3 separate regions of the Homo sapiens genome follow, and all the other regions are linked to region 1. The links come from fine-mapping of genetic effects on gene expression. A gene starts in region 1. Each other region holds a variant in brackets. All regions are shown on one strand. Distances are from middle to middle.

Region 1 (2,765 bases):
AATGTGTATAAATGCATGGCAAAAGGGCCAAAGGAGCCCTAATGTAAAAACATTGGCAATAAAACTGTTGAGACAAACCAAGAATCCAGGTTGCCAGGGTCAGCAGTTTTAACATTGTTTTATGGTACATTGTGTACTTTTCCTTCTTACTGATATGCATTGCACTGTGACCTTTGCAGAGTCCTATCCTGCCCTGCATTTTTCACAGAGTTGCTCTCAGTCTCAAATAAGATACCATATGCATGTGAAAGGGCTTTTGAAATGGAAAAGCAGTAGAAAGTTGAAAGTAAAATGGTCTCTTTCTCTCTAGGGCATCAAGGCATCTCACAGAGCACACTTTAGCTACTGGGAGGATTGACCTTGGGTGAAATTTCAGTATGTAAAGCTTGTTTGGGGTTATCTTACATAATTTTTTCTTTCCTTGTGCTATACACACACACACACATATATGTGCATATATGTACAATGCACATATATACACACACACATATGGCACCTAGTATATGCTTGGTGCTATGCTAGGTGCTGGGGAGACAGTGAGAACAACCCAGGTGCCCAGGACCTGTCCTCACAGCCCACCTAATCCTTTTAAGTCTTTACATACCTCCCATCCCCCACCCCCATGCTCCTTACTCATGGTATTCAACCCAACTGATTGACTTATTTATTGTTATTTATATGCTTATATATTTATAGATTTATCATTTTATCAAGATTTTTACGAAGATACTCAATTGGAGGTTCCTAATTCTGGAGAAATTTCCATTTTACAAATATATTCTTGGAGAGGGCATGATTATGGACCTGTCACATTTGAGTACTGTGGCAGTTAGAAGGAGGGCAATTTTGGGAGGCCCTTCCAGGCTATGTCCTTCCAGCTATTAATGAGGTTCTGTTTCAGAGCAGACCATATTACACGGTGTTATTAATAAATCTGGCGAGTGGTTATAAGGGTGTGTGTATCGGAATAATCCATTAAGCTGTACATTGGTTTTATATGGCTGTCTATATTTGTGTTTTATTTAACAGTAACAGTTAACAATAACAGTTAAAAATAAGTATCACTTCTTTTAAAATTCACACAACTTCTTGGGCTGAGTGAAATGTGGCGCAGGTGCAGGACTGTGGGAAGACAGGAGCGCCAGGGAATGTCTGGCCAGCAGCGCGCTGCCCTCAAGGGGCCTCCTTGAAGGCCCCTTGAAGAGGGCAACACAACTAATGACGATAACAATAACAACGATGACAATATTGACGATGACAATAACAGTAATAAATCCGAGCAAGAGACTCGAATCTGTCAAACAGCAGCGACCACCACGAATCGCATCCCCGCGGCGCCGCCATACAGGAGACTGCCCTCGCCGAGGCCACAGCGGCTCTCGCGGCGCCCCTGGAGGCCCCCTTCCTGCCTTGGCCAGAGGGGCGGGGCGTAGGCTGGGGGCGGGGCCGGAGAGTGGGCGGGGCCTGGCGCGTGGGCGGGGCTCCGGGCGGGCCGGCCGCCGAGGGTGGGGCCGAGGAGGAGGAGGAGGAGGAGGAGAAGGAGGTAGGGGCCTGCGGGTGGCTGGGCGGGGCGCGCTCGGGCCTCCGCTCTTCACGCGCCGCATTCGTAGCCCGAGAGTCCGCGCCGCGGGGAGGCTTGGAGGCAAGCGCTGCCCGCGAGCTGAGCCGCCGGAGGAGGAGCCGCGGGCAACGAGGTAGGCAAAGGAACACTGGCCGCACGGCCTGGAGCCTTCAGCTCCCTCGTCCCGGCCCGAGGGGGTGGCGAGGCTCGGGGCGGCGCGCGGAGGCCGGGGCGGGCGGGGCCGGGACCTGGGGGCGGGGACCGGCCTGGCCAGAGGGGCCACACGGAGCTGATTGGGCTGTGGAAGTCGGAATTCCAGTCGGTGCGGTGCGGTGCGGTGCGTTGCCTCGGCGCGGCCGGCCGGTCCCGGGACACGGCACCAGGGAGGTGTGGAAATTGCCTGCCCCAGGGGCGCCCGCGGAGGAGGGTAGGCGGGGGCGGCCTGGGCCCTCCCACTTTTCAGGGCTCCTGGGCCAGTTCGCCCGCACAGCCCTCGGGAACTTGTTAACAGGAAAGCCTGGCAGAGAAACAAATGCCAGCGTTTTGGAAGAACTGAGAGTCACGTCGTTAGGCGCTGAGGCTTTCTTTTCCTTCCCCGCCCCCTGCCCAACCTCGGCCCGACTTGGCCAAAGAAGGATGTGTCACCAGCTCCGGGCCGCGGACGGGATTCCCGGCCCGCCAGGAGCCGGGGTACCTGAAACAAAGGTAAACGGAGGCCGGGCGGCCCCTGGTCCTGCACCGCGGCCGCGCTGGAGCGCCTCGGTGGGTCTCTCCCGCGCCGACCTGGCCGCCGCCGCCGCGGAGGGGCGTTCTCCTGGGGGACCTCTCGATGGAAACCAGCTGGCCGGGCTTGGAGTTGATGTTGCATCCGAACTCTGTTGTGCTCCCGTTATTCCCAGTCCTCCCACTCTGGTAAAGCTTAAGGAAATTTTATCCAGTCTTGGTGGTCAGCAAATGTAGGGGAAGACAAATTATTGTTTGTAAATTATAAGGTATTTTCTAATTAGGAAATGGCCTGAAAACATTAAATTCTTAACACGTAAGCAAAAAAAGAGTAATTCCTTCCAACATCTGAGGAAGTATTCCTCCTCAAATCTTCATTTATGTACAAAACATCCCCCACACCTTTGGTGCCAGGCATTTTTCTTTGTTCTTCCTTAGTCTCAGGCCTTAGTTTCTTGTAAACAGAACCCAGCGCCTAGAC
Region 2 (2,765 bases), 76 kb before region 1:
TAATAGAGCTATAGATCATTTCCATCATCACAGAAAGTTCTTCTCTATGTAATCTAGCACTTAAGCCTATGACACAAACAATAATTACAATACAGAGAAAGGAAGAGTCTAAAGTGAACAGAAATTGCTCTAAATAGCTTCTGAAGGAACTAATATTCAAGTTGAATTTCCGGGAATGAGATGGAAGCCTGGGAAGGAGAATTTCATTCAGAGTCCGTAAGAGAAACAAAAGTGATAATAAGGAGAAGAAAATGGGCCCAGGCCTGGATGGAGCCTGGTACATGTTCATGATGAACATATATTACAGGGATGGAAGGATGAGTGAATGGTAGGAAATGAGATAAGTAGGCAAGGTATAGGGAGATTGCACAGGAATTTCAATGTCTGGCACAGTAATGTAGGCATGACAACAATAGCTAGTAACACTGGCTATCACTTATTTAATGCTTATTGTGTTTCAAGTTTTGTAACAAGAGATTTATACAAATTATTAAATACAAATTATTACATTTACTCCTCACAGCACCAGGAGGTTAAGTATTTTTAACTCTATGATAAGAATGACAAAAACTGATTTTTGGAGAATTTAGATATAACATGCCCAGGGTCATGCAGTGAGGAAATGGTAGGCTGTGATTCAAACGAATACCATTGTCACCAATGCCTTCACCTTATACTTTCATTCTCCCTGCTCATCCTCCAAAAATCTTTCTTTTTAATTGGGAAGGGCTTTGCCTCCACTCTTTACAGTATAAATCCACAGTTTCCAAGGTGTCTCTTCTGAAAATCCCTTTACCTTTTTCTGATCCTCGAGAAAATACTCTCTTAACAGGGAGTCCTTAGCAGTTTAGAATGTATAGCATTAGCAAGAGCAGGAATATGGCAGGAAGGGCTTGGAAAATGGCAGCGATCGACCCTGCAGTGTGAATAAGAGGTGTGTAGAAAAAGAGGCCCTTGTACTCAAGGATTCACCAACTTTTCAACTGATATCATGCAGAAAGTTACCCCCTGACTTCAGAGCCCTTCTACCAGGTGTGCAAGACAGGGTTCCTGGCCCCATGAACTCCTGTCACCGTTGTGGCTCCTCTCATTGTTTCTTATTCTTCTAAGAAAATTGCTTGCTGTATTCTTCTGTAGGTTTGAGTTTTGGAGTTTATACATATGGACGCTTCCCTCCTTTACAATCCTGACTACAATTTGACCTGGCTGCTCCTGGGCAGACCCGTGACTATAGATTGGAACAAAAGGCTTCCCAGAGGAGAGAGAGACGTTAACATGCTTTTCTATGCCTCTGTGCTTTTTCTATAAAAATAGAATATTAAGTTAACAAAGCATAACAATTCATCTCAAAGTATTATAGATAAAAATTGATTACAGCATTTAGAGCAAGATTTGAAGAAATACATATACCTTGTTACTACCTTTAACAGTAATCATTCACTGTTTAATCTAACTTTGGCACTTGCTCAACACGTAAACTGGAATGTGCCTTGTGTCTTTCCTTTTAGTTAAAATCCTGTGTAGGGTTGATACTTGGCTCTTTTTCTTTGGGGCATTAGA[G/T]ATTTTGGCACCAACAAGTATTCCACACAGATTCTCTCCAGCTTTTTACAGTTTGAGCTGCCTTCACACAGCTGATCAGTGAGAAGGTGCCCTGCTGCGGTCTTAGCATTCTAATTAACAGTCTTTCTATCTAATCACTCTGCTCTTCTACATGACAGAGACTGACCTTCTACTCCACAGCATTGCCAACAGCCAAGAAGAGAAAATGATTAGAGCCCAGCCACATAATATCCATGGCATGGAACATACACACTCACACACATACACGTGCTCAGGAAAAGCTTATTATGGAAAACCCCAGGGGGAAGGGAGGACCAATCAACCCCTCCCAGTGTTTACCCCTGCTTCATTTGCTGCAGTCCCCTCACTCTTCTAAGAGAAATGATCATGACCGCCACTATAACTGCTTCAGGCAGCAATTTGCTCTTCATATCTATCTTGGCTTAGATTTTAATAGGTATCTTTTTGATAAGTATCTTCAATATGTATCTAAGACGAAAGTGGAATTTTTTTGAATTTTTGTCTTTAAAAAACTATAGCAAGAATAAAAGAATAGAAAGCACAGGTAAAATCACAAGTGAGGTTACAGGCAGATTTCGCATCTTTAAATTACCAAAGGCTTGACAAAATTATTTGGCCAACACCATTTACTGAAATCACCCAAATTCATCTAAATTCACCTCACCTCTGACTTGTTTAATTTTCCCAAAGTTAATATACCTCTATTTTTCTCGGCACAGTTTGGGCCCAGATTTGCTAGTGACCTGTATGACCTGTATGGCTGGTGCCATCAGTCCCAAATTCTCTCTGTCTCATACAAATGAAATATCTTTCTACTAGAAGTTTATGTGCTTACCAGTGATCATAAATGAAGTATAGTTCCTTATTTCCTGCCCACAAGAGCTAGGTAGGTTTCTTAATGTCTTAATGTAAGTTGATGACACGTTTGCCCTAACTCATAGATTGTGCAAGAATGAACTGCCATTGAGTTTGATTGCTTATAGATGGATTTTGATGAAGTTAATTTGAAGATATTGAAGGCTGCTTACTGTGCTTAATAAAAATCTTTATTCTTTTAGTTTACAAAAAGTTAGATGTTATTGAGCCAATTAGATCCTGTGTGTGGTCTGTGGAGGTGCCTGCAGTCTTCAGTTCATTGACGGAACAAAGTGATAGACACACCCAAGGCCCAGTGAACTGACAAA
Region 3 (2,765 bases), 29 kb after region 1:
CCATTGCTAATTACCCAAAAGAAATGAACACATATCCACAAAAAGACTTTTACTTGATTAGTCATAATAGCTTTAAATCATAATAGCACAAACTAGAAATAGCTCAAATGTCCATCAGCTGTATGAATATACCAGAATTTGTTTTATCTATTTGTTGAATAGCATCAGAACATTTGAATAGACAAAACAAATTCTGGTACATTCATACAGTGGAATACTACTCAGCAGTGTAAAGGAATGTACAATTGATAACATACAGTAAAATGGATAAATCTCGAAACTAAGTGCTAAATGAGAGAAGCCAGAGAGAAAAGTACATATGTAATTATGCTAATATGAAGATCTAGAACTGGCGAGACTTACCTACAGTAATAGAAATCAGATCAGTGGTTGTTGGATATTATGGGTAAGGGAAATTGAGAAAGGGCCTAGGGATAATTTTGCGGTGATAAAAATGTTCTGTCTTTTTTAAGGCAGTGGTTACATGGTTCTTGTCAAATCTCACTGGATTACAAACTTAATATGTTTTTTATTGTATGTAAATTATCAGTAAAGTTGATTTCAAAATAAAAGTGAAGCTCTAAAAAGCTGAAGGGAAGCTCTGTGTTTGTGGACAGCGTTTGTCAATTAGTGGGCTTCACTGTAAGATGATCATGTAGCTAGATGAGATTTCTATTTCTCTAGAAAAAGATTCTTTAATCCACAGTGGAGACTAGGAGCTGGAGTTAGTAAGCCTGGTTTTTGGTGACCTGGGCCTCCTTTATTTTCAATCCTTTACCACCGTCTTTGTCTGATGCCCCTGATGTTGGTGCTTTTCTGTTTCAGTTTTTTCCTCCCAGCACATCAACTTTCTATCTTCAGCAGGGTGAAAGAGGGATGATTTCTGAGCTTGTGGAGTGGGGGTATGGAGACCTAACTATTCTCTTACAGACTTTCAAACAGTCCCCCTATGTTTAATCCTCTACCCTACTCCATTTTCTGTGGTACCTGCTACCAACAAACCTTGGCTTTCTTTGGGTTGTGCAGGGTATGAACTGGTTTGCTTGTCATCAGTAAGCTGTCATTTACCATTCCTACTTCTCTTTTCTGTCTTCATCTGGAGTTACAGGTGTCTCCTAGGTTTTTGAAGATGGAGTTTGCATTCCTGTTTCTCATTCTTATTATTTGGAGGAGACTTTAAAACTGTGAAACCCATACTGCACATTTTCAGCGTTACCAATACCAGACTCCTTATACCTCTCTAAACACACCAGCCTTTTTCTGTCTCTGTGCCTTCATAGAATTCCTTTTTGCTTACAAGGCGCAGTCCAACCTGTTTTTACCTGATAAGGCTCTTATCTTTCAAAAATCCAGTTCCTCTCCATCCTAACTTATCTGCTGCTTCTAAACCTTTGTTT[T/C]ACAGCAGATCTTCTTCATTAGGAACTGCCATATAGCAGTTTATTGTGGAGCTTTCCAGAGGCACTGGAAAGTATGTGTTAGAGTAATCGTAATCTGCTTAAAGTGGTGGTAATAGTAAGTGCTTGATAAATATCTGTTGAATGAACTCTAAAGATGCATATGAAACACTCACCCAGAAATTAGGAAAACAGACTCTGGCCCTTTGTGGAGATGAAAGGACCAGCAGAGACCAAAAGCCTGGGGGGGTGGGGCTGGCAGCATGCCACAGACCTGAGGTGCATAAATATACACATTCAGAACAATTATGATTTTGCAAGTAGTCTGTTGTATTAGGGGTATAAAGCAGACTATAACAGATGTTTAGACTGAAAATTTTTCTCATATTTTATCTCATCTAAGATTATAAAACTCATTATTTCATATGCCATTAAGAAAAAACTCTATTGATTATGATAGAGTGCTTATCCTCTAGAACTTTTTTTACTCATTGAAAGAGTTCTATGAGACTTACGTTGACAGATTTTTTTTTTTTTTTTTTTTTTTTTGAGATGAAGTCTGTCTCTGTTGCCCAGACTGGAGTGCAATGGCACGATCTCGGCTCACTGCAGCCTTAGACTCACTGCAGCCTCTGCCTCCCGGGTTCCTTTAATTCTCCTGCCTCAGCCTCCCAAGTTAGCTGGGATTACGGGCACACACCACCATGCCCAGCTAATTTTTGTATTTTTAGTAGAGATGGGGTCTCACCATGTTGGCCAGGTTGATTGTGAACTCCTGACCTCAGGCAGTCTGCCCACCTTGGCCTCCCAAAGTGCTAGGATTATAGGCATGAGCCACCACACCTGGCCTGATGGATATTTTTAACTATATATCACTCTTGTGCATATATAAATAAAATACAGTGGAAATAATTGGCTAAAATATTTCTAGAATTTCATCTATTCGGATTCAGACTCTTTAAAATCACTTTTCAATTTAGAGCCACCGATGTTTATACTTTCTTTCTCTGCCATCCAGAGTGTTTGGTGATGACGCATTTCTTAAAAGAGTGTTCTGCTATGATCTTTGGGAATTTTCTGCCAAGTTATTCTGCATGTTTTTTTACAATGGTGTTTTCTTGACCTTACTAGAGTGCGTTCAATAAATGACAACCATGTCACAGTTCTGCCTGACCAATAGGGATTTTAAGATGCTACCAACTATAAGATGTATTTCCATTTAAGTGATGTTAAAATGTCCAAAAAAAAATGTATTTTAGAATTGAAAAATACTGTAGCTCAATAATTAATGTGATTCTGGCCTCAGAAACTTTCTCTTTGTTCCTGTTATTTAAAGGCTGCTGCTTTGTAAAAATGTATTTATAACCAAAC

What was found. PIP is the estimated chance that this variant, and not a neighbour inherited with it, causes the effect.
Region 2: its variant is fine-mapped to the expression of PPP2R3A in blood mononuclear cells (TOPMed, PIP 0.99).
Region 3: its variant is fine-mapped to the expression of PPP2R3A in blood mononuclear cells (TOPMed, PIP above 0.99).

The regions. Positions count from the first base shown.
Region 1 is chr3:135,964,156-135,966,920 of GRCh38, forward strand. PPP2R3A (protein phosphatase 2 regulatory subunit B''alpha) reads left to right here and starts at 1,573. Exons shown (of 14, transcript NM_002718.5): 1 at 1,573-1,694. RefSeq lists an enhancer at 1,147-1,965 and silencers at 1,410-1,639, 1,770-2,049.
Region 2 is chr3:135,887,898-135,890,662 of GRCh38, forward strand. No RefSeq gene overlaps it. Among named protein-coding and RNA genes, the nearest start is that of PPP2R3A, 76 kb to the right of the region's middle. The variant G/T (reference allele first, on the strand shown) is at 1,561.
Region 3 is chr3:135,993,530-135,996,294 of GRCh38, forward strand. All of the region lies in intron 1 of PPP2R3A (protein phosphatase 2 regulatory subunit B''alpha), which reads left to right. Among named protein-coding and RNA genes, the nearest start is that of PPP2R3A, 29 kb to the left of the region's middle. The variant T/C (reference allele first, on the strand shown) is at 1,398.